7 linked regions of the Homo sapiens genome follow. The protein of the gene in region 5 interacts with the protein of the main gene of each other region in a pairwise test. Each region holds a gene or a part of one and is shown on either strand. Other genes may lie near its edges. The genes, in order: ZNF426, STAU1, METAP1, NTF4, GLRX3, ALKBH3 and FAM118A.

What was found.
Region 1: the proteins of GLRX3 (region 5) and ZNF426 interact in binary tests that used the Homo sapiens proteins (3 or more experiments, as listed by UniProt).
Region 2: the proteins of GLRX3 (region 5) and STAU1 interact in binary tests that used the Homo sapiens proteins (3 or more experiments, as listed by UniProt).
Region 3: the proteins of GLRX3 (region 5) and METAP1 interact in binary tests that used the Homo sapiens proteins (3 or more experiments, as listed by UniProt).
Region 4: the proteins of GLRX3 (region 5) and NTF4 interact in binary tests that used the Homo sapiens proteins (3 or more experiments, as listed by UniProt).
Region 6: the proteins of GLRX3 (region 5) and ALKBH3 interact in binary tests that used the Homo sapiens proteins (3 or more experiments, as listed by UniProt).
Region 7: the proteins of GLRX3 (region 5) and FAM118A interact in binary tests that used the Homo sapiens proteins (3 or more experiments, as listed by UniProt).

The regions. Positions count from the first base shown.
Region 1 is NC_000019.10:9,532,146-9,535,645, forward strand, and holds part of ZNF426 (zinc finger protein 426), read right to left. Parts: intron 3,135-3,500; coding exon 3,043-3,134; intron 1,822-3,042; coding exon 1,695-1,821; intron 781-1,694; coding exon 700-780; intron 1-699. UniProt on the Homo sapiens protein: May be involved in transcriptional regulation.
Region 2 is NC_000020.11:49,118,835-49,122,334, forward strand, and holds part of STAU1 (double-stranded RNA-binding protein Staufen homolog 1), read right to left. Parts: intron 1,295-3,500; coding exon 1,148-1,294; intron 1-1,147. UniProt on the Homo sapiens protein: Binds double-stranded RNA (regardless of the sequence) and tubulin.
Region 3 is NC_000004.12:98,998,721-99,002,220, reverse strand, and holds part of METAP1 (methionine aminopeptidase 1), read right to left. Parts: intron 1-3,500. UniProt on the Homo sapiens protein: Cotranslationally removes the N-terminal methionine from nascent proteins. The N-terminal methionine is often cleaved when the second residue in the primary sequence is small and uncharged (Met-Ala-, Cys, Gly, Pro, Ser, Thr, or Val).
Region 4 is NC_000019.10:49,062,019-49,066,246, forward strand, and holds the start of NTF4 (neurotrophin-4 preproprotein), read right to left. Parts: upstream 2,801-4,228; 5' UTR 1,721-2,800; exon of another isoform or gene 1,598-1,720; intron 733-1,597; exon of another isoform or gene 639-732; coding exon of another isoform or gene 621-638; intron 1-620. UniProt on the Homo sapiens protein: Target-derived survival factor for peripheral sensory sympathetic neurons. May promote ameloblast differentiation and subsequent reduction in proliferation of ameloblasts.
Region 5 is NC_000010.11:130,160,391-130,163,890, forward strand, and holds part of GLRX3 (glutaredoxin-3), read left to right. Parts: intron 1-405; coding exon 406-607; intron 608-3,500. UniProt on the Homo sapiens protein: Together with BOLA2, acts as a cytosolic iron-sulfur (Fe-S) cluster assembly factor that facilitates [2Fe-2S] cluster insertion into a subset of cytosolic proteins.
Region 6 is NC_000011.10:43,901,331-43,904,830, reverse strand, and holds part of ALKBH3 (alpha-ketoglutarate-dependent dioxygenase alkB homolog 3), read right to left. Parts: intron 3,316-3,500; coding exon 3,106-3,315; intron 1-3,105. UniProt on the Homo sapiens protein: Dioxygenase that mediates demethylation of DNA and RNA containing 1-methyladenosine (m1A). Repairs alkylated DNA containing 1-methyladenosine (m1A) and 3-methylcytosine (m3C) by oxidative demethylation. Has a strong preference for single-stranded DNA.
Region 7 is NC_000022.11:45,330,434-45,333,933, reverse strand, and holds part of FAM118A (protein FAM118A), read right to left. Parts: intron 3,332-3,500; coding exon 3,203-3,331; coding exon of another isoform or gene 3,178-3,202; intron 1,510-3,177; coding exon 1,224-1,509; intron 1-1,223.

The sequences.
Region 1 (3,500 bases), on a different chromosome or scaffold from region 5:
CAGTGTAGATACATTGGACAAAAGGATGATTCACACCCCAGGCAGGATGACATAAGGGTTCATCATACTACTGAGAATGGTGAGAAATTTAAAACTTATGTTTTGTTTATTTCTGGAAATTTTTCTTTTTTTCTTTTTTTTTTTTTTTTTTTTGTGGGGTGGGGGTCAGTGGCCAGGGTCTCACTCTATCACCCAGGCTGGAGTACAGTGGTGCAATCACATCTCACCACAGCCTTGACCTCCTAGTCTCAATCCATCCTCACAGCTCAGTCTCCTGAGTTACTGGGACAGCAGGTGCGTCCCACCACCCTCGGCTAATTTTTGTATTTTTTGTAGAAACAAGGTTCTCGGTATGTTGCCCAGGCTGGTCTTGAACTCCTGGGCTCAATGATTCACCCACCTAGGCCTCCCAATGTGTGGGGATTACAGGTGTGGGCCACCATGCCTGGCCGAGTTTCCCATTTAATATTTTTGGACCATGGTTGAATGCAGATAACTGAAACCGTGAAAAGTGAAATCACAGACAAGGGGGGACTGCTCTGTAAATAAAAGCGTGTGGGAAGTTAAATATTTCCTAACTTTCTCTAAACCTTGGGGTTTAGAGTGCAGGGAGAAAGTACATGTTAAAAAGTTTCCTAATTATGCTTTCAAACATACTGAACTTCTCATCAACCAGAGTTGTTCTTCATGAACACTCACCTTGGAGAACTCCTCCCTGAACTGTCCTTGACTCTTCTTGTTCCAACCAAGAGATTAGACTGGGTTTGATGATCTGACCTCCTGAGCACAGAGAAATACATTAATGGAAGAGGCTCATAAAAAAGATTACAAACCTTTCTGTGATTCAGGAACTACAGATCTAATGAAAGTGGTGAAGCTATTTCAAAAGGGCGAAAAATGCAAATAACAACTCTGACTGTGCCCCAAACAGTCTGGTTACTTCTGTCCCCTAAACCGAAATTCAGGCTTATGTACACATTTAAAAAGCACTGAGACTTTTATTCAAACACAAAATAATGGCCGAGTGTGGTGGCTCATGCCTGTAATCCCAGCACTTTGGGAGGCTGAGGCAGGTGGATCACTTGAGGTCAGGAGTTCGAGACCAGCCTGGCCAACATGGTGAAACCCCATCTCTTCTAAAAATACAAAAAAAAAAAAAAAATAGCTGGGTGTGGTGGCGCATGCCAGTAATCCCAGCTATTCGGGAGGCTGAGGCCCAAGAATCGCTTGAACCCAGGAGGCAGAGATTGCAGTGAGCTGAGATCATGCCAGTGCACTCCAGCCTGCGTGACAGAGTGAAACTGTCTCAAAACAAGAACAACAACAAATAAGGAATAAGGAAGTATAACAGAGATCTTCATTCTTCTGGGGAAACAACTACCCCAGTGTTTTTTAAAACATTATTGTGCATCAGAGTCATCCAGAGAACTTGTTCAAACACAGATTATTGGGCTTCAACTCCAGGTTTCTGGGTGGAGAAGGAAAATGTACATTTCTAACAGGCAGATGGTGTTGCTATTAATCTTGGACCACATTTTCAGAATGGTCACAGTAGATTAAAATCTATTTAGGACAGGGACTATGTCTCTGTTATTTCTCTTTGCATTCAGAGTTGACATTGCCAATGCTGCAAAACAGTAAGTACAAAACATATCAGTTCCATAGAAGGCTGCAAGGGATGAGGCCAGTCTTACCTACTGTGGCCAGGTTCTTGTAGTTCTCCAGCATCACGTCACTGTAGAGGCTTCTCTGAGTTGAGTCCAGTAAAGTCCACTCCTCCTGGGTGAAGTCCACAGCCACATCGTCAAAGGTCACTGAATCCTAAAGCATCACACACATGCTGGTTGGAGCCAAGTAACAAGCCCATCAGCGTTCGCTGGAGGATGAGGAAGGGGGACCCAATGCCTATGCAGGATTCCAAGGGCTGCAGTGACCAGCCCCAGGTTTTAAGGGTCCTAGAAACTCCTCGCACCCTAAACATACTCACTGTCATCTCCTCCACTCATAGTGCATTAATGGCACTTCTTGAATATGAATTTATCTCAGCACAACCAGACTAGGAGATCTCTTTTTTTTTTGAAATGGACTCTTACTCTGTTGCCCAGGCTGGAGTGCACTGGTGCAATCTTGGCTCACTGCAACCTCCACCTCCCAGGTTCAAGCAACTCTCCTGCTTCAGCCTCCTGAGTAGCTGAAATTACAGGCACACGCCACCATGCCCGGCTAATTTTTTGTATTTTTAGTAGAGATAGGGTTTCAGCATACTGGCTAGGTTGGTCTCGAACTCCTGACCTCATGATCCGCCCCCTTCAGCCTCCCAAAGTGCTGGGATTACAGGCATGAGCCACTGTGCCCGCCCAAGATCTCATCTTATTTCCATCTATTTGAGCGCATTGCTCAGCACATTCCAGACATCTGATCAATGCTGATAAACAACTTAAAGGACACTTTTTTTTTTAATTTTTTTGAGACGGAGTCTTGCTGTGTTGCCCAGGCTAGAGTGCAGTGGTGCAATCACAGCTCACTGCAGCCTCAACCTCCAGGGCTGAAGTGATCCTCCCACTTCAGCCTCCAAAGTAGCTGGGAGTCCAGTCATGTACCACTTTGCCCAGCTAATTTTTAAATTTTTTGTAGAGACGGGGTCTCACTATGTTGCTCAGGCTGATCTTGAACTCCTGTACTCAAGCAATCTGCCTGCCTCAGCCTCCTAAAGTGCTGGGATTATGGGTGTAAGCCACCATGCCCGGCCTGGGATGATTTCCAAGTTAGCACCTCCCTATATGGGTGGCCCCAACCCTTGGGGAAATTCAAATGGGGATTCAGTCCTTGAGTGACACTTTATTTGCTTTAAGAAGCCTGGAGACCGGAGCTTGCAGTGAGCCGAGAGCATAGCACTGCACTCCAGCCTGGCAACACAGCGAGACTCCCTCTCAAAAAAAAAAAAAAAAAAAGAAGTCTGGAGACAACTCTGCCTAGAGGGAAATGTGTCTACCTGGTGGATGCAAGTATGTCACTATGTATAAGAATACAGCTGCTTTTTACCTGATAACAATCTGTTAGGCAGTCAGCCACTATTCTTCCTGCTGGTGTCTTTTCTTCATGAAGGCAAACTGGGTCCCCAGAAAGATAATGTCCTGTAAGAAAATGAAGGCAAGAGAACCCCGAGCTGACCATAATCCCCACATCCACCTACCTAGAGGTCATTACCTCCTAGTATGAAATTCCCATATATTCCTGCAAAATCAGGAAAACACACATAAGGCCAGTTGCAGTGGCTCACATCTGTAATCCTAGTGCTCTGGGAGGTTGAGGTGGAAGGATTACTTTAGGCGAGAAGTTTGAGATCAGCCTGGGCAACACGGTGAGACCCCGTCTCTACAAAAAAATTTTAAAATGAGCCTGGTGTGGTAACACACACCTGTAGTCCCATCTCCTTGGGGAAGCTGAGGCAAGAAGATTGCTTAAGCCTAGGAGTTCGAGACTACCCTGGACAACACAGT
Region 2 (3,500 bases), on a different chromosome or scaffold from region 5:
CCAAAATTAACACCCTTACGGGGAAAATGTTATTACCTAAGAATTTTGTCTAACACAACATCACCTTTCTAAGAAGTAACAAAGGACACTCTGAATGTCCTACAAGATTCTGAAATGAAAAACCCTAAAGCCAAGTCTAAGATCTATACTGGTGGTATCTGGGGTCCCAGTCAGTTATTAACTGGCCATGACTGATGCTGTTTCTGTCAATATGACTGGCAGACATGAATGAATCAGGCCTGATTTCAAGTTTATCTCACCAGGACCATTCAGTGATGGGAAAGAAGAAGGTCAGCCATGGCTTTTGCTGAGGTCCTGCTTACCACTTCTGGCAGACACGAATTTTTCTTTTTACGTTCCTTTTTTGTTGTTGTTGAGACAGGGTCTGTCGCCCAGGCTGAGTGCAGTGGCATGATCACAGCTCACTGCAGCCTTGACCTTCCAAGGCTCAATCCTCCCATCTCAGCCTTGTAGCTCGGGCTACAGGTACAAGCCACCATACCTGGCTGATATTTTAATTTTTTGTAGAGACAGGGTTTCATCATGTTGCTCAGACTGGTCTTGAACTCCTGGATTCAAGGCCTCAGCCTCCCAAATTACAAGTTTGAGCCACCACACCTGGCCGTGAATTTTTCAACAGGGGATTATTTTCATCTGATGTTTAACTCACATAGGAAAAAAGAAATCCCAAACCTAAACTTTGGATTTGGCCTGTCTCTACTGTCACACTGTCTTATTTTGCCAGAAAAATCAAAGCCTATTCCACAATTAACGAAAGCCTAACAGTTATAAATCTTTCACACAGGCTTCATTTCTAGAGTGCAAATCACACTTAGTAATTTCAGTCCTAATTACCCTTCATCCTCATCCTACAAATAGAGAGGAGCAAGCTGCCCTCCACAAAGCGTCCCCAGACCACAAAGATACTGACACAATCAACGATCTAACCCAGAGCCTCCTGGGGCCAGTGGACATGCGAGGCCCCTCTGAGCACATTATGGTCCAAATGGATGAGACACTCCTCAGCAGGACTCCTTGAACTGTCAGGCAGATAAAGCCTTGCCTTGAAGCCTGCCCCTGGAGGTGCCCCAGTTCCCTAGGGTGAGGCGAGAGACCATCTTGCAATCAGAGAGCCCACAGCACTCACCTTCTCCTCTGACTTGAGTGCGGGTTTGGTGGGCTGCGCCTGCGGGACTTTGAAACCAAGGATCTCCAGCATGTTCTCGGCTGCATTGCGCTTGGCCACCTTCTTGTTGGTGCCCGTTCCTTCTGCAGTGTGGTTTCCAACCTTCACCTGCACAAAGAAGTCAAAACACAGACCAGTGCTTAAACCTTCAGAATAACAACCAGGCAGGAATTGGTGTGTCAGCAAAATAACCAACTATGGTCAGAAGCAAGATAACAGCAGTGCCCCGAACCTGGCCTCCTTGTCTCTGAGAGCTAATTATTAAATAGTCAGGAGTTTGGGAAGCTGGCTGTTAAACACAGCCAGTATTAAACATTTAATTATATAAGCTGATAATTATTTTAACAGAGGTAATTTTTGACTGCATTTTATAATCATCTGTGTTCTGAGGGTCTGCCCAGCTATTGCATTTGTACAATGGAAACAGTCTGTGATGGTGAACTACTGTACATCTATTCCCAGCATTGCCATTGGAAGTATCACTTTGAGAGCTTGAAATCAGCCATGGTGGGACTATTTATACCACAGAAATATACAAATGCTACGTATCAAAGATCATAAGCTGTTTATTGTCTAACTCTAAACCTACAATGATGAAAAGGTTAATAAAGCAGGTTAATCTTAAAAGCATGAGAAGTCTGCAGCCATTACATTGTAACTAGCACAAAAAACTGAAATATCTTCCCGTCTTTGAAAATTATCTAATTTTGCAGAGAAGCCACTCATATCATTTACAAATGAGTGATGTTACATGTCTTCATTGTTTCACTTTTTCTTTTTTCTTTTTTGGGATAGACAGGGTCTCACTTCTTCACCCAGGATGGAGTGCAATGGCATGATCTCAGCTCACTGCAACCTCCACTTCCCAGGTTCAAGCGATTCTCCTGCCTCAGCCACCCGAGTAGCTGGGATTACAGGCGTGTGCCACCATGCCTGGCTAACTTTTCTATTTTTAGCAGAAATGAGGGTTCACCATGTTGGTCAGGCTGGTCTCGAACCCCTGACCTCAAGTGATCCGTCATGCTGGGATTACAGGCGTAAGCCATCAAGCCCAGCCTGTTTTACTTTCATCTTACCTATTAACATAAATAAAAAACATCAACCAGCCGGGCGTGGTGGCTCACGCCTGTAATCCCAGCACTTTGGGAGGCTGAGGTGGGTGGATCACCTGAGGTCAGGAGTTCGAGACCAGTCTGGCCAACATGGTGAAACCCCATCTCTACTAAAAATACAAAAAGTAGCTGGGCGTGATGGTGGGCACCCGTGAATCCCAGCTACTCGGGAGGCTGAGGCAGGAGAATCACTTGAACCTGGGAGGCAGAGGTTGCAGTGAGCCGAGATCACACCACTGCCCTGCAGCCTGGACAACAGAGCAAGTTGACTCCATTCCCCTCTACCCCAAAAAAAATGTATCTCAACCAGTATTCATGCTACAACCAAAATCTCAAATCTACAGTATGTATTTGTCAGTGACATGAGCAACACCTTTGCTGAACTGGATAGTAATAAACCATTATGTGCTGTCTGATTTTATAACACTATCGTTGGTAACTGTCACACTGAAATATGTATGAAATTTACAATAAAGTGTATATTATTTATAAATTGTACTACACATCCTTTCTGTCAGTAAAATTTATAAAACACACATATATGTCAGTATAATTTATAACACACATCCTTTGTGTCAGTAAAATTTATAACACACATGTATATAACACCCATGTATATATCTATAACATACATATTCAGCTCATTCCACCAAACCACCCTCCCCGAAGAAGAGCTGGTTGTTAAACATGTTCCAGCACATCACTACTTACAACCCCCTTCCAAGTTGATTGTAATAACAGGCACCTGGCTGCTAAAACCAAAAGCCCAGGTCACAAGACTCAGAGAGTCAAAGAAACCATTCCCTGGCCTGGGACTAAATTCCAACCTGGCCATCTACCAGCCATTTCATCTTGGGCAAACTACTGATCCTCTCAGCAAACTGCAACTTCCTTTTGTGGAATGAAAGGATCATTCTTTTCCTACCTTCTGACTGCATAGGTAAAATATACGAGGTCAACTTTCTAAGTTATAAATTGCTATACAAGAGATAAGGATTCTGTCTTACATCAGAAAGCACTTAAATTCAAATCACAATTAAGTTAAGCTGCCTATGTGAAATGACCACTTAGCTTTGAACTTAATCAGCTAAGTACAAAGAAATGTTCCATACTAATCTGAAGTGTCACCCAATCTAAGGAAGAGGTAACCCTAGATTCCAGACTCCATAAGAATTAGGAGGAAGAGGAACAGATCTCTTGAT
Region 3 (3,500 bases), on a different chromosome or scaffold from region 5:
TTTCTTCCGAATATCTAGAGCTGGAATGAGCTTAGCTATGCACTTATGTCTGTCACTCCTATGAAATTTACTAAAACTTAACTAAAATTTTGCAAATATGCTAAACATGAAAAAGATTCACCTTAAAAAACCATGACTAAAACTTGATTTCAATCCACAAACTAAGTGAACAGTATAAGATCACATTTCCTATAGCACTTCAATTTCCAAAAAGGTAACTCAAAGACTGGTATAACTTTTGATTGCCTACCAACCAAATGATGCTCGTTTTTTTGTTGTTGTTGTTTTACAAATTCTACTGTAATGTAGGTATATTTCATGCCAAAACTTCATAGATGACCAGAAGGCCCTCAAACCAACAATAATCCACTAACTACACTGTGAGAACCACTGTTCTGGAAAAGGATATAGAATTAGCTTAGGATAGTTCAATTCTGGGTTCATGTACCAAATCCTGTACCATTATTATACGTTCCTGAGTAAGTCAAAATGATTTAAATTTTCGAGGAATATTTATTGAAGAGTAAACAGAAGGTAAAAAATTGAAAAGAAATTAAATTCAACTATAAGTGAATAAACAAATGACAGTACACCCATAACAGTCTTTATAAAGGATCATGTAAATGTAGCCATGACATGACACTACCAAAACACTGGTTAAGACATTAAGGATGAGAAAATTCTCTAAGATTATATGTATTATGGTTGCCATTTTTGTAAAAACATACACAACTGTGTGCACATGAATAAATACGCAAATATGTTCTTAAGAATACACACCAAAATTTCATAGAAATCATCTCTGGGTAATTGATTATCTTCACACATATTTTCTATTTTTCTACAATAAACAATTTATGAAATTATTTTTGTTTTGTTTTAAAAAGACTCATAATTTCTCTTTACCTCATCCTATCTTTTTGCTTATAAGAAGCTATGGCATTTGTACCTAAACTCAGCTAACTTACAGGAGTGTTTAAGGGTGGTCTGAAGTGACATGAGGAATTTAAAGAAAATCCCTATAAATAAAAACGCACAACATGATAATATCTCCTTTAATGAAGATGAATTCCAGAAACACCCTGCACTGGCAGGAATGTTGTTACTGACAGAGAAAGTTTCAGAGGGCAGGGTTGCATTTCAAAGATACTGCATGTTATAACGGCAATTCCTTCTCTACCTTCTAACTCCAACCTACAAGATGCTCAACAAGACTTTCTTCCAGCCAGGTGCAGTGGCTCACACCTGTATAGACAACACTTTGGGAGGCTGAGGCAAAGTGGAACTCAGAAATTCAAGACCAGCCTGGGCAACACGGTGAAACCCCGTCTCTACCAAAAACACAAAAAATTAGCCAGGTGTGGTGGCTCAAACTGGTGTTCCCAGCTACCTGGGAGGCTGAGGTAGGAGGATCACTTGAGCCTGGGAGGTGAAGGTTGCAGTGAACCAAGATCACGCCACTGCACTTCAACCTTGGGTTGACAGAGTAAGATCCCAACTCAAAAAAAAAAAAAGAGAGAGAGAGAAGAAAAACTGTCTTGTTATTTAAAAAAAAAAAAAAAAAAGACTTTCTTCCTGGATTCAGTTAATCATGTTACCTACCACTTCTTTTAAAGAACCTATTATTGGATTTGTCAAAAATGTTCATAAACAAGTAACATTTCCCCTCAAAGATTTTTAAGCCTTCCTTGGTACTGATTTTAATAACATTACATATGAGGTTATATGCACAATAAGGCCCAAATTTACTATATGCTCTACTAGGCACCCTGGATGCTCTCTTAGTCACCTTCTGCTCAACTCCATTGAAGAGGATGCTTCATTAAGCAAAGGAGGGGACTTACCCAAGGTCATGGGAGCAAAATCCAGGTCTCCTTCCACTTACACTATGCTTACTACCTTTTATGCCTTATAAATATAAATAGTTACAGATCACTCAGGTCCCTCCCAGCTGATCCTCTAACCAGAGGAGACAGCAACTGCCCTATGCTATTCACAAAGTTAAACATCAGCTAAAAAACTGAAAAGTAACTAAATTCAACCATAAGCAAATAAATGAGTGTATCAACAATATACTATACTATTCAGTGTTTACAAAGGATAATGTAAATACAGAATTTCTTTGTTTTCCATTGCAAGCCCACTGATGTCTTTTCTTTCATGTAAGGAAATGAGGGCCTACTGTGGGCAAGGCACTTTGGAAAATACAAAAATGAGTAAAACACACCCTCTGTCCTCAAAAAATTCTTACACACAAATGAAAAAGACATACATAAACTATTAAATAGGAAGGAAAACTTCTATTAATAAACACAATCGAACATCAAGAACTCTTGGAAAACTCAATTTTCAAGTAAAACTGGTTGTACTCCTCTAAAGAACAAAAGCTTTCCTTAAAATCAAACATCCTAGGCTGGCACAGTGGCTCATGCCTGTAATCCTAGCACTTTGGGAGGCTGAGGTAGGCGGATCACGAGGTCAGGAGTTACAGACCATCCTAGCTAACACGGTGAAAGCCCGTCTCTACTAAAAATACAAAAAAATTAGCCAGGCGTGGTGGTGCGCACCTGTAATCTCAGCTACTGGGGAGGCTGAAGCAGCAGAATCGCTTGAACCCGGGAGGCAGAGGTTGCAGTGAGCCGAGATCACACCACTGCACTCCAGCCTGGGTGACAGAGCAAGACTCGGTCTCAAAAAAAAAAAAAAAAAAAATTAAGCATCCTAGATAAAATATTTCTACTTTCCTAAACATAAAACAGTATAACAATAAAAAGAGCTAACATTCATTAAGTTTACTAATATGCTAAGAGCTTTACATACTTTGGATTTAGTCTTCATCAAAACCCTGAGATAGGTATTATTAATAGCCCCATTTTAAAAAGATACAGCTGAAAAAGAGAGGTTATTTGCCCAAGTCACATAACTAGTAAATGATGGAGCTGTGATTCAAACACAGCAGTATACCTCTCTATTTTGATGCATTTATCCATTAATTCAAACATTTAATGGCCACCTACTGCATACAGAGCATCATACTGGGAAATGAGAACAGGGCAGTGAACAAGATAGGATCATTCATGAAGTTCACCTTCCGACTAAAAAACAGACATTCTCGGCCGGGCATGGTGGCTCACGCCTGTAATCCCAGCACTTTGGGAGGCCAAGGAGGGTGGATCACCTGAGGTCAGCAGTTCGAGACCAGCCTCAACATGGAGAAACCCCATCTCTGCTAAAAATACAAAATTAGCTGAGCGTGGTGGTGCATGCCTGTAATTCCATCTACTTGCGAGGCTGAGGCAGGAGAACTGCTTGAACCTGGGAGGCGGAGGTTGCGGTGAGTCGAGATCGCACCATTGCACTCCAGCCTGGGCAACAAAAGCGAAACTCCGTCTCAAAAAAAAAAAAAATCCTCATTTTTCTAACAGGTGAGGTAATCATAGATTGCACAAAAGGTCATAAAGGAATAAACAAGGTGGTGTGACAGAGTAACTGGGAATGCC
Region 4 (4,228 bases), on a different chromosome or scaffold from region 5:
GAAAGAGGGAGGCTGGGATTAGAGAAGGGGGTAAAAACTTCAGTGGGGAAAGAAGTTGGGAACCCCAGGGGAGGCTTGCCTGCCAGGATTGTGGGGAAGCCCTTGTTCTAGAAGTTTGGGGGACCCTATATCTAGGGCTTGCGTAATGCGCAACTTGTAGATTAATAATAAATATTCAACTACTACAGGCCAGGCACTGTGCCCCACACCTCTAATCCCAGCACTCTGGGAGGCTGAGGCAGGTGGATGACTTGAGGTCAGGAGTTCCAGAGCAGCCTGGCCAACATGGTGAAACCTCATCTCTACCAAAAATACCAAAATTAACCGGGCATAGTGCTGCACGCCTGTAATCCCAGCTACTCAGTAGGCTGAGGCAGGAGAATCACTTGAACCCAGGAGGCCGAGGTTGCAGTGAGCAGAGAGTGCACCACTCCCCTGCCACCTGGGCGACAAGAGTGAGACTCTGTCTCAAAAGTAAAAATAAGGCCAGGCATGGTGGCTCACACCTGTAATCCCGGCACTTTGGGAGGCCGAGATGGGCGGCTCACCTGAGGTGAGGAGTTCCAGACCAGCTTGGTCAACATGGTGAAACCCCTTCTCTACTAAAAATACAGAATTACCCGGGTGTGGTGGCGCATGTCTGTAATCCCAGTTACTTGGGAGGCTGAGGCAGGGCAATCACTTGAACCCAGGAGGTGGAGGTTGTGGTGGGCTGAGATTGAACCATTGCACTCCAGCCTGGGCAACAAGAGCGAAACTCCGTCTTAAAAAACAATAATAATAATAAAATAAAAATAAAAATAATTCAACTACTATTACTTAACAGTAACAGATGTTGAAATACAGGCTCAGAGAAGTTAATGATTTGTGCCCGGTCACACAGCCAGCAAATGGCAGAGATGGGACTTCACCTCTGGGCAACTGCACTCTGCCGTCCTTCCTGTGCAACTCTGAGGAACCGACAGTCTTGCATCTTGGAGGATGTTCCAAACAATTTTTTTTTTTTGAGACAGAATCTCACTCTGTTGGCCAGGCTGGAGTACAGTGGCACAATCCTGGCTCACTGCAATGTCTGCCTCCTGGGTTCAAGTGATTCTCCTGCCTCAGCCTTCTGAGTAGGTGGGATTACAAGCACCTGCCACTGTGCCCAGCTAATTTTTGTATTTTTAATAGAGATGGGGTTTCACCATGTTGGCCAGACTGGTCTTGAACTCCCAACCTCAAGCAATAGTCGTGTCCTGGCCTCCCAAAGTGCTGGGATTACAAGCATAAGCCACCATGCCTGGTCCCAAACAAAATTTTTTTTTTTTTTTTTTTGAGATGGAATCTCCCTCTGTCGCCCAGGCTGGAGTGCAGTGGCACGATCTTGGCTCACTGCAAGCTCCGCCTCCCAAGTTCATGGCATTCTCCTGCCTCAGCCTCCTGAGTAGCTGGGACTACAGACTCAAGCCACCACGCCTGGCCACATTCCACAATTTAGAGAAAGGTCACAACCTGGAATCCTAGGGAGACCCCAGTTCACCTCAAAACTGCCACTAAGGAGGTAAAACGCTGCCCCTCTGAGGCAGGCTTCAGTTTCCCTGTGTGTGAAATTGACCTGGCGCTGGGAGAGGCTGGTGGAGGCGCGGATTTTGCAGTTTCCCTACAACATTCTGGAAGCCTGTGGTTCTGGGAAAGGGTGGCGTGGAGAAGACTGGGAAACAGTCAGTAGTTACCAGACCTGTCAGCACCTCCTCCGCCTCGGAGCTCTGGGGCTGGGAGTCCCCAGGCTTCGGGGGGCCCCTGTGGAGGACACAGGTGGCCCCCTCCTTCCTGACATCTCAGGAGAGGGAGGGGGCAACCACCTAGGGGAAGAAAAGAATAGACAGGTTATAGAGGCAGGTGGGGAAGGGGCCAAATCCCTGAACAACCCCTTCCCAGAGTTCCTCTTCAAGTGCAGGGTACCCAAGAGTCAAGGCCCCGCCCCCTTTCCAGAGGCCCCTTTTCTACCCAGGTGATGGCTCCTGGCTGGGATGGGAAGCAGATGGAGGGAGGGGAAGGGAGAATAGGGGAAGGGAGAGGCAGTGGATGAAGGAGGCTGGAAGAGATTACATCCCCCTCGGCCCATTCATCTCCCAGATGGGGCGGAACTGGCCTGGACACCCGGGTCCCTGAGGGCCCACACTCAAGAAGCCCTGGTTCCCCAAGCTGCTTCCTGGAATGTTCCCTCCTCACAGGACAGGCCAGGGCCCGCCCAAGACTTCTGCACATACCTGGAGTGGCTGCCTGCCCTGGCTCCTCGGTACAGGAAAGGGGAAGGGTGGAGAGTGAAAGGAGCCCAGGCTGACCCAACCAGGACCGCCTTCTCCCTCAGACCGAGTAGTGCAGACCCCAGGGCCTCCACCTTCAGACCCAGGAGTTCAGATCCCCAGCGCCCTCCTCCCTCAGACCCAGGAGTAGTCCAGGCCCCCAGCGCCCTCCTCTCTCAGACCCAGAAGTCCAGGCCCCCAGCACCCTTCTCCCTCAGACCCAGGAGGAGTCCAGGCCCAGGCCCCCAGCACCCTTCTCCCTCAGACCCTGGAGTCCAGGTCCCCAGCGCCCTCCTCCTTCAGACCCAGGAGTCCATGCCCCCAGCGCCCTTCTCCCTCAGACCCAGGAATCCAGGCCCCCAGTGCCCTCCTCTCTCAGACCCAGGAGTTCTGGAATTCAGGCCCCTCCTTCTCGGATACTAAGAAATGCAGACTCCGGGTTCCTCATCCTCCAGATTTGGGTTGGGGGTTCCGGACTCCGAGACCCCTCAGGGGAAACCGGCTGCATATCTGGGACACTTCCCTCTTGCCTCAGTTTCCTCCGCCAAGCCCCGCCCCGGTCGGCCCCGCCCCCGTCCCTCCCCACCCGAGGGCAGGGCGACCAGGACGCCGGAATCCCGAGGGAGGAGGAGTGGAGATCTTACCTGGGGCGCCCTCTTCGGCTCCCGCGGCTGCCCTCCGCCCGGCAGCAGCTCCTCCTCCTGCTCGCTGGCTGCAGGGACGCTCGCTGGCCCGCCGGGTGCTAGCTGCTCACGCTCCGCAGGGCCCGGGTCGGGGGCGGGGGCGGGGCGGCGCCGGGCGGCAGAGGAGGGGCCGGGGGATCCTGCCTTGCACTCGCGTGCCGGGACCTTGGAAGCCAGGCCTGGCTCGTTCAACGCGGCCGCCTTGGTCACAGGAGTCCCAGTTTCCAGCTGCCTCCTCCTTTGGACCTAGCAGTCCAGGCCCCCAGCCCCTCCTCCCTTCAGACCCAGGAGTCCAGGCATCCGGCCCCTCCTCCCTCAGACCCAGGACTTGCGACCCCAGCCACCTCTCCCCCCAGCCCCAGGCGCCTGAGTACTAAGCCCACAGTTCCCCCCACCACCTCCCAACCCCGCCCCGTCTCAGACTCAGGAGTCCAGCCCCCAGCCTCCTCCTCCATTAGCCCCAGGAGTCTGGGCCTGAGATTCCTTTGCCGTCTTTTGCCAATTGCGTGTCAATCCCGGGGCAGATTCCCACCCTCTGCTCTCCTCCCCACTTCCCAGGAGCTCCACGCCAGACATTAACCAGCTGGGCTTGGGCAGTGATAAGGCCCCAGGCCCGGGGAGACAGTGGATGTGGGGGCTCCCGCATACTCCTCTCCCCTGGAATTTCCTGGCTGGGGACCGGGGAGAAGGTCTTGTCCTGAGCTCAGATAAGAGACGTGCAAGGTATCATAGGACCAGAGATAGACAGATGTGTCTTAAGAACAATCAGCTACCTTGAGAAATGGTGCGCGGTGACATGAAGGGAGAGATAGGGAGAAGACATGGAAAAGTGGGGAGAGACCAAAAGAAAGAGGGGGACCGAGACTAGAGAGAGTGGGGGAGGGCAGGAGCCCAGAGAGAAGACAGAGGCCCAGAGAGCGTGAGGGCAGACCCCCCCACCCCCCCGAGAAGGGGACAGAGCCCCTGAGAGACCCTGAGAAAGACAGGGATGGGACCGGAGCCGGAGTGTCTCAGGACAGTCATGAGGGCAGCGGGGCTCCTCACCCCACCACACCTCTACCCTGAGACTCCGCTCCCCTCCGCCTGCGCTATTTTCAGAAGGAAAACTGACACCTGCCTCGAGGGTCATCCCACACCCCCTCAGCCTAAATATAGCATGGCAAGGTGGCAGGAGGGTGTCCCCGGTTAGGGTGTTTCCTGCTCCTCACCATCCCAGCCAAGGCAACACACAAGGCCGCTCCAGTTATTTATTGGGGG
Region 5 (3,500 bases):
CCTGGACATAATGGAATCTCTGGCTGGTTCTGGTTTGATGAATGACTTTTAGGAAGCAGGTGCACACCTGTGCTTCCAGGCACCCATGGGTGTCATCGTAGTTCCCCAAATACCTCATTTATACTTAGTAATAGATTCATTCCAGCCAATGTGGGGGCAGTCTTTTTTGTATTATGTTAGACTGACCTGATTTGACTTTGAGATGTTGCAGTGTTTTCTCAGTGTGTTTCTGAGAAAAGAAAAAAATTATGTATTTCTAAAATTGAGATGCAGTGCAGGCAATTGGCAATGAGGGTTTCTTTTTTTACATCTCCGGTAATACTGTTGTCCCCTTTAAAAATCTGCTATAACAATGTCATTATTATGGAATGCTGCATGTATTCTAAATAACTTTTTAAACTTTAGAATTCTCAGAAAATCGACCGATTAGATGGTGCACATGCCCCAGAGTTGACCAAAAAAGTTCAGCGACATGCATCTAGTGGCTCCTTCCTACCCAGCGCTAATGAACATCTTAAAGAAGATCTCAACCTTCGCTTGAAGAAATTGACTCATGCTGCCCCCTGCATGCTGTTTATGAAAGGAACTCCTCAAGAACCACGCTGTGGTAAGAAGCTGCCTTTAACATAATATAAACAAAATGGGTGCTTTCCCAGAATGGGGTATGGTTGAGATGGGCATCCTGTTTCCAAGGATGCTATACCATACATCTTATACTTGTGTTCACATACTTTTAGAAAATCAAAAAGGTTATAATTCCCAATGACACTATATAAGAATTAGTTTGCATTATGGACTCAGCATGTTGGAACCAAAAGGGGTCTCAGAACTCATCTAATTCAGATTTTTGTTTTATACTGAAGTCCTCAGACTCAAAGATAGAGGTGACTTGCCCAAGGTCACCTGGTAAGCAGAGTTAGGATTAGGTTCCAACTACCATATTGCTGTCTCTTTTGCCTGTTTATCTACTTTTGCTGTTAACAGTTATTTTTTCTTTCTTGGCAGCCTCCTGTTTTTCACCTAGTTCAGATTCAGCAATTAAAAAATTTGCGGAATTTTTCAGTGTTTTTGTGTCCAGCCTGTGTGCTTTTGCCTCCCCTGTGTCATCACTGTCTAATGATTCTCTTCCTGCATTGCTGTCATTTCCAGTTTATAGCTGCTGGTAATGGAAAGATTCCGAATTCTTGGCTTGTAGTCACTCTTATTTTCTGTACACATGGATGCTTATAATTTTGTCCTTAAGTAAGTTTTAGAGTTATTTGACCCCTCTGGTAGTGGGTTTATGTTATTTTCTTTTTACTGTGCCTAGTACAACATTAGTATGCTGCATAATTGAGCATTTAATGCCATTTGATGATGCTGTTGAGACTCTAAGAGTATTTGTATCAACTACACAGGAGGGACTTTATTAAGATAGGGGCAGTAACATTGAGTATGCTCTTGATATGATTACAGCATGTCCAGAGTGACTTTATAAAGATAGCCAAGCTTCTAGTGTGAATTTGATTCTAAATTCTTCCCTGTAGGGTTATTAAATTACATATTAGCTTATGATAATGTCTAGTTTTAAAAATAAAGTTTCATGATGAATTCTTATTTTTTCGAGATGGAATTTCGCTCTTGTTGCCCAGGTTGGAGTGCAATGGCACGATCTCAGTGCGACGGAACCTCTGTCTACTAGGGGTCAAGCGATTCTCCTGTCTCAGCCTCCCGAGTAGCTGGGATTACAGGTGTCCACCACCATGCCCGGCTAATTTTTTTGTATTTTTAGTAGAGATAGGGTTTGTCCATGTTGGTCAGGCTGGTGTCAAACTCCTGACCTCAGGTGATCCGCCTGCCTTGGCCTCCCAAAGTGCTGCTGGGATTATAGGCGTGAGCCACCATGAATTCTGTCTTAAAAGTATCTCTTAGTTCTGCCTAAAAAATTTCCCTGCCAGTATTTATGTGTCAGATAATGCCTGCTATTTGTGTATTGCAAAGCTAACTTAGTCTGTACTAAACTAAAGGTAGCAACAGATAGTCTCTGTTGCGTTTGTTATTTTGTTTTTAACGGGGGTTGCAAATGGTTCACATTCACCTTCTTCCATGAAACATGAAAATTATTTCTTGTACTTTGTGCGGTGGCCACTAAATGGGAACTTACCACTTCAGTTGAATGGATTGTATTCAGCACCTTCATTCAGATCTCAGGTACAGTAGAACTGGCTGTGAAATGTGGGTGAAGCACACCTACAGTGAAATCTCTACAGTATTCTCTCCTTTGGGGTTGAACAGCAGCAGTCTCAGTCTTTTCTGAATGATAAACCTAATGAAAAGGCAGGTGGCAACACTGAAGCTTGGGGAAGGAGTGCTCAGAGGAGAAGGATGTCCTGGGAAGTGTGCTGCACTGGGTGTCATGCCAGGCGAGCCTCAGGCCCACCCCTGCGGCCTTAGCAACTTTGGGGACAAGTCAGGTACCCTCCTTGTGCCTTTAATTCCTTCTAGTGCTGTTGGGAACAAGATTGGCTGTTGGAGCCAATCTTGGAGGGCCTTTTCAGTGTAGATATTGTATGATTATTCAAGTAAATTAGAGAGAAACTTAGACATTTTAATTTTTCTGCTTACCTTTTACTTTATTAAACTGAATTTAAAATATACTGCTAGCATTTTTATATTTATATTAAACTTATTTAAATTATGTTTATTATAATGGAGTGAGATTTGGAAGACTGTACAAATAACAGAATAAAAAAGAAGCTTTGAAATATTTCAGGGCTGGGCGTGGTGGCTCATGCCTGTAATCCCAGCACATTGGGAGGCTGAGGTGGGCGGATCGCTTGAGATCAGGAGTTCGAGACCAGCCTGGCCAACATGGCGAAACCCCGTCTCTACTAAAAATACAAAAATTAGCTGGGCATGGTGGAGTCCTGTAATTCCAGCCACTTGGGAGGCTGAGGCAGGAGAATTGCTTGAACCTGGGAGGCAGAGGTTGCAGTGAGCCGAGATCGAGCCACTGCACTCCAGTATGGGTGACAGAGTGAAACTCTGTCTCAAAACAAAACAAAACACATTTCAGAGCCATCTGAAAACGTAGTATTATAGTTATTTAATTAATAAAAGACAATAAATATTTTGAGATACATATGGTTGAATGGTTACAGTTTCTTCTTTTAAAGTACTTCTATATAATTTTTATAACTACATTTTCAGTGGGTTTTTCTGTTTCCTGATATTTTCTGTTTCATGTCTTTCTGTCACATATAGTAAATAGATCATTTAAGAATGTTGCTGTTCTTTAATAAAATACTTAGGATTAATTGGAAAATATTTTTAAACTGTTTTCTTATGGGAACATAAGTCACCTCGACCCTCTGCTGTTCCTTTCTGAGCCTGGTTAGTGGAGCATTGTTTTTGCTCTTCTTCTGGCATTTTAGAGAAGGGCGTAGGCAAAGCTCCCTTTATAAAAGCACTGGCCATCTCATCTTGTGAACACGCACGTGGCTGCTCTTTCCTTATTTTGC
Region 6 (3,500 bases), on a different chromosome or scaffold from region 5:
TACTTTTTAAATTATGCTTTACCTTGGGCTGTATGAATCATGAGTCATGTTCTCATCACCTGAGTTTATAAAGAAAAGTAGACAAAAATGTGCAATAATCGCTTCCTTTCAATCCTTTGGAAAAAAGGATTATTTATAAGATAAAGATGATGCACTTTAAGGTATATTTCCAAGGCCATCAACTCAAAGAAAGGGTTCTGCACTTCGAGTTTAGCTACATTTGTAGAGCCCCAGGTTTTTGGAAATCCGTTAGTGAGACCTGAAGGAATCTTCAAAAGTTTAAACTTGTATCCTGTTTACACAAAAATGGACTTTACAGGTTCTGGGGAAAAAAGGTCACTTTTTACTCATGTGTGATTATAATTTCAAACATATTAATATTCAATTTCCCAATCTTAAACAAAAGCCAGAATTGAGATGATATACAAAAACTGCATGAAATTCAATCATAGTTAAGACTAGGCCAGAAGCCAAAACTTACTACAGTCAACAACCTGAAGTACCAACATGTTTATATTTCTTCCCAAATCCCTTTCCTCAGGCAACTTTGTTAAAATCTCAGGCAAATTTTCTTACTTATTGGATCAGTATTTTAATCAAATCAGCTACCATCGTCATAGCGCAGATTCCCTTGCCACTGGCAGACAATTATGTGGACTTTACCACTTCTGAGTATTTCATGGCCTGTATTATCATTCATGTTCATCAAAATAGGCTCCAAGAAGGCTGAGGAGAAGAGAAAGCTACAGCATGGGGCACGGCAGGATAAAGCGCTGTTCCAAATGCTTGCCCACAGGAACAATGTATGTAGTAGTTATGCTCTCCATCTACATGTTACCCTATAACATAACTGATGTGTACTACCAAGAAATAGCTCTTGATCACCATATGTCATATCTTTATATGAGAAAATGAAGAAATTCAGCTCTCTGGAGGGGAGAAGAAACGGGGTATTTCTGGGCACCAGAATATTGTGAATGCATAATATTTGGAAATTGCTTGTACAGTAAAATGATTTATCCAAAAAGCATACTTAGGGAATTCTTAAGCTTCAAATCTATAAATAGGCCCAAATTTTTAAAAAGGGGCATGGTGGTGGTGAATATATGTGTGTAAAGAAACAGTAACTGAATACTTAAATACTGAGCAACAAAGAAAGTAAGTGTGAAGAACTAAAAACCATTATTATACCAAAGGCTATATATACTATAGCTTATTTGCCAATCAGGAGGCCAGAAGGATAACTCTAGGAGGAAGGCGCAGTGCTAGCATATGCTAGATGAGCTCCAGGAGGAGAAAGACAATTTCATCTTACTCATTCACTGCTACGGCCCCCGGTCTCAGGACCACTCCTGGCAACAAGCTGAGGTTCCATACATCCGGCTTGAGAAGAGGGTCTGAACTTAAATAATGAGACTGATACAGTGTCTCTCTACTATTTATGCAACAGGAGTCTTACTAAGGGCAGGATGAATTTTTCACACATGTGAACTTGGTATTTAACTGAGTGAAAGCTGTGTACAGAAGTATAATCATATCTAAAACAAATATAGCAAAAGCTGGTTTGTCTGATTCTCAAGTGGTACTCCTTGGTATATGAGAAGGCTGCTTGCCAATGTAACTGAAGGCTTAGAGAGCAAGTTCACTTAAAAAAACACCGGCAACTACCAATCCCCTAACAATGATCAAACTTTTTATGTAAACATAACCAAAGAAAGCCTAATCAATGGAAATTATACCAACAAAAGGTACTTAATGGCATATATGCAAAATCACACAATATGCTTTAAAAATACCATGCATGGAAACCCAATACACACCAGGAAAACACTCAGTCTGTTAACTGTATTCTTATGGAAGTATATCTGACGAAGAACTGACACAAGAACTAATAATGATGTGGTCTGGCTTAGGTCTATTCAAAAATCAGCCTGGGCCAGGTGCAGTGGCTCATGCCTGTAATCCCAGCACTTTGGGAGGCCGAGGTGGGCGAATCACCTGAGGTCAGGAGTTTGAGAACAGCCTGGCCAACATGGCAAAACCCCATCTCTCCTAAAAATACAAAAATTAGCCAGGGGTCCTGGCACACGCCTGTAATCCCAGCTACTCGGGAGGCTAACGCAAGTGAATCGCTTGAACTGGGGAGGCAGAGGTTGCAGTGAGCCGAGATCGTGCCACTTGCACTCCAGCCTGGGCGACAGAGTGAGACTCCCTCTCTAAAAAACAAGCAAACAAAAAAACAGCCTGTTGGTTGGCCTTCCACACCGACTGGGTCTGGTTTAACATTATAAGCTGAATGATCAGGAATGCTGGTTAGGAAGAGACACAAACACTGAAAATAAAATAATTGGCTCTTTTCTTGGCATTACTATCTTTCTTAGTCGTAAGGGACTACAGTTTTGATTTTTTAAAAAATTAATAACCCTAGTATTCCTCAAATGTCACATAATTGAGGTAAGCGCTGGGGTGGAAACTGAAGTTATTATATCGTTATTAATTTTTTGGTCACTGTTTTTCTACCTGAATGTGGACAGATCACCATCTCTGATAATCTGGCTTGAGTTTCCTCTCTCTGAAAGAGTTAGATTCACCTGTATTTCAGGAGAAGGCTAAGAAGGAACAAACATATGTGAATGCTCCCTTTCAGAAAAGTGGCCATATTACCATGAAGAACACTTAAAATAAAGGTTTCTTCAGGGACGTCCTCCTTAGCCTCCTTCCTCTTCCTTAGCCTCCCACTAGCTTGAGTCATTCTTCTAAGGCTTTCCTTCACAGCATTGATCACAATTGCAATTATTTGAGTAATAGGCAATATTTATCTACCCCAACTAGACTGTATCTCCAGGAGGACAGGGAGTTTATCATCAATGAAATGAGCCGCCAGCACCTAGCATAAGGCAGCCAATTCTTGTTGGACTTGTAAATGAATGAAGGAGCACTTTGGAAGTCAAAAGTTAACCATGGGGAAGTAGTCACTTGAAAATGTTTCATCAACAAAATGTGTATTCCCATGCTCGAAATCTGAAAGTAGAAGCTTTTAGGAGTTCTACTTTTTCCACAGACTAATAAGAGGCAGGAAGAGCATAAGAAAAAGAGAATACTCACTGGTGGTGGCTTCTTTCTCATCTCAAATGTGCGTGTGGCACCAAAACTTAGTGAAGCAATAATGGGGCACCTCCCTAGTGAGGGTTCATCATCACTGTGCCAGTCCACGCTGTCCTTCTCATTGCGATAAAGATTGCAGAGTAAGGAGTTGAAGGTGTGGCCAGTGTTCTCTTCAATGCGGTTCTTTAGTGTGCGCAGCACAGGGTGCCACTGCAATCCACAGACCAAGAAAAGGGCAAGACAGTCGCATTACACACAAAATGACAGCCGCATGGAAAAACAGAAAAGAAAGGGCAAAATCAGCCAAGTTATAACCAGGGCATGTAATAAGCAAACCACATGGAATGCAATAAACAGAAGGCAAGAAAAGTAGTTTAATTCCCTCCCATCATTTC
Region 7 (3,500 bases), on a different chromosome or scaffold from region 5:
CTTGGTTAAGGAAACCTGAAACAGGAATAAATGTGTCCAGCTATACATGTGTGCACAGCTGTAAACTTCAAAGTTACTGTATTTTTTATTTTTAGAGACAGGGTCTTCCTCCGACGTCCAGACTGGAATAAGTGGCCTGATCACAGCTTACTGCAGTCTCTAACTCCTGGGCTCAAGCAATCCCCCCACCTGAGCCTCCAGAGTAGCTGGTATCACAGATGTCCACCACCAAACCCAGCTCTTTTTTTTTTTTTTTTTTGGAAACAGAGTCTTGCTCTGTCACCCAGGCTGGAGTGCAGTGGTGCGATCTTGGCTCACTGCAAGCTCTGCCTCCCGGGTTCATGCCATTCTCCTGCCTCAGCCTCCTGAGTAGCTGGGACTACAGGTGCCCGCCACCATGCCCAGCTAATTTTTTGTATTTTTAGTAGAGACGGGGTTTCACCGTGTTAGCCAGGATGGTCTCGATCTCCTGACCTCGTGATCCACCCACCTCAGCCTCCCAAAGTGCTGGGATTACAGGCGTGAGCTATCGCGCCCGCTCCAAACCCAGCTAATTTTTAAAAACATTTTTGTAGAGACCAGGTCTCCCTATGTTGCCCAGGTTGGTCTTAAACTCCTGGGCTCAAGCAATCCTCCTGCCTTGGCCTCCCAAAAAACTGGGATGACAGGCGTGAGCCACGGTGCCCAGCCTGAAGTTACTTTAAAGTTCTAGTTACAGACTGTCACTAGGACACCAATTACTCCAATCTTCTAATTTTAAATTACAGAGGCAGTTTTAAAAAATAATAACGAAGACTGGTGAATTTTAGGGGTATGTGGGTTCCATCAAAAAAAGACAGAGAGAAACAACTGGAAGAGCCCTGTGAGTTTTGTACTTGAAAAGTGAAGACAGGCCGGGCGCGGTGGCTCTCGCCTGTAATCCCAGCACTTCAGGAGGCCAAGGCAGGTGGGTCACCTGAGGTCAGGAGTTCGAGACCAGCCTGACCAACATGGTGAAACCCTATCTCTACTAAAAATACAAAATTAGCCAGGCATGGTGGCGCATGCCTGTAATGCCAGCTACTCGGAAGGCTGAGGCAGAATCCCTTGAACCTAGGAGGCGGAGGTTGTGGTGAGCCAAGATGGTGCCATTGCACTCCAGCCTGGGCAACAAGAGCAAAACTCCGTCTCAAAAAAAAAAAAGAAAAAAGAAAGAAAAAGGAAAGTGAAGCCAGATCCCATACCTGGGCTTTGCTGTTTGCAGATCTGAGTGGCAAGGTCTTGCACATATCCTGGAAAGTGGTCAAAACAGTCCCCGTAGGATACAACTTTGATTCCGTGCAGAAGCATATCTGCCTGATGCTTAAAGAAATGGTCTTCATTCTCCTTCAGCACAAGCATGTAGTGCTCCAAATCCACCTTATTCGGCACGGAGTAAAGAAAGAGGGCCTGGAATATCTGATCACGAAGGGTCTCCCCACAGCCCACAAACAGAAAGGACTTGGTGCGGTATAAGTTCTGGAGGACTTCCTAGAAAAGGCCAATGAAGAAATTGAGTGCTCATTTGAAAGACAGCAAGAGCTTACAACTAACCAAGTCACATGTGTGTGCTTTTACATCACTGCTCCCTGACAGGCGTTCCCAGGGCCACGCTGAGGAGCACAGTTAGAAGGACAGTATCCTTCCCGACATGGCACTCAGGCCACCCCCCAGCAGCAGCCTGTGGCAGCAAAGACCAAAGCTGGGCTGAGCCTGCCTGTCCCCAGCTAAGCCAGGGTAGCTGGTCTTTGGCCGAGGCGGGTGGCAGTGCCCACACCCCTAACAGCAAGGCCAGCCCATCGCCCACCCCACACACTCACCAGTGCAGTCACCCAACTCAAATCTTCTCAAATTGGGTACGATTTTAAATTATTAAAACACAAAATGAGGACAGTAAATGTTTTCAGTTCAGAATTATGCACATAAAACACCCTGAAATTAATGTTGATCTCAGTGGGCCATATGTGGGAATTCTTGCAGGGGTGGTTTTGCGAATGAGGGCAAGAGAGCTGAGGAGGGGATCAGTGACCATGACTGACGGGGTCGGGTGGGCACAGGGAAAGCAGATTGCATGGGGTCACTCAGGCAGGCAGGAGGGAATCGCCAATGCAGCTAACCAAATATCTCAGAGAGGCTCAGTCTCAGCCCAGGTATTTCTTATCACCAAGCAGTATTAATGATGCAACTGAAAAGCATCTGCCCAGTCACTCATCTGCTGACACCTGTCACGGAATGACACCGGCCCAGGGATGAGCACTGAGGAACAGGGCGCCTAGCTGTGTGCTTGAGGGTAAATCCACAGACACCGAGTTTCTCAGTGCTTACCAGAAGCACAGCTTTTCCACACTGCATTCTAGGGCATCAGGAAGACCTCACAGCCGGGAGTAGGGGCACACACCTGCAGTCCCAGCTACTCGGGAGACTAAGGCAGGAGGATCCTTGGGCCCAGGAGTTCAAGGAAGCAGTGAGCTTTGATCATGCCACTGCACTTCAGCCTGGGCCACAGAGCAAGACCCTGTCTATTTAAGAAGAAGAAAAATAAAACCTCACAGAGAATGAAGTGTTATTTACTTTTATTTATTTATTTTTTTAGAAATGAGGTATCGCTCTGTTGCCCAGGCTGGAGTGCAGTGGTGCGATCCCAGTTCACCATAGCCTCTCCCTCCTGGACTCAAGCAATCCTCCTGCCTTGGCCTGCCAAAGCACTGAGATTACAGGCATGAGCCACTATACCAGGCCAAAAATGAAGCTTTACAACTACAGGAAGGAGAGCAGAGAATTTCAGACCAGAAGAAGCCTGGAAGAACAAGGACAACATTCTAGACTGCACGGGGCCTATATGTCATGCTGAGGAGTTTCACTATATACCTGGGCAGGTGAGAACCACCAAATGGCCAGGGCTCCTAGAGAGGGTACAGGCAGATCTCTGCTTTGAAAGGAATCATGAATTCCTTCCTCCAACAAATGTTCGCCAAGCATCTACTCAACATGGAGGCACCATGCGGGACCCCAGAGACACAGACGAGGACAAGAGACGTGGCCCCTCCCTCAGCAACTGTGTGCAGGGCCGACCTGAAGGGCACGGACGCCTGGAGCCTGGGAAGCCACTCAACTGCAGCCAATGGCCAGTGGCCACCAGTAATCCCTGAGAGGACGCACCGATGCTAATTAGGACGGGCCGTACCATGACTTCTGCGTCTTGAGTGACGTCTTTATACCCCGATGGGTCCAGCACCACCCCGCAGGGGTCCGTGTAGAGGCCGTGAATGTGGAGGACGCCGTACTTCATGTGCCCTCTTGCCCATTCAAGGACCTACCAAACATCAAGCCAAGAAAAAGAAACACATCCTCAAACTGTTTCAAACAGAGAGAAGAAAATACTGAAAATGGATTCATAGTTTTTAAACCTATCTTGGAAAGAATCATCGAGAGATGCTTCACTTTACACTTATACCTTCAAAACCTAAGAGAAACTTGGTTGT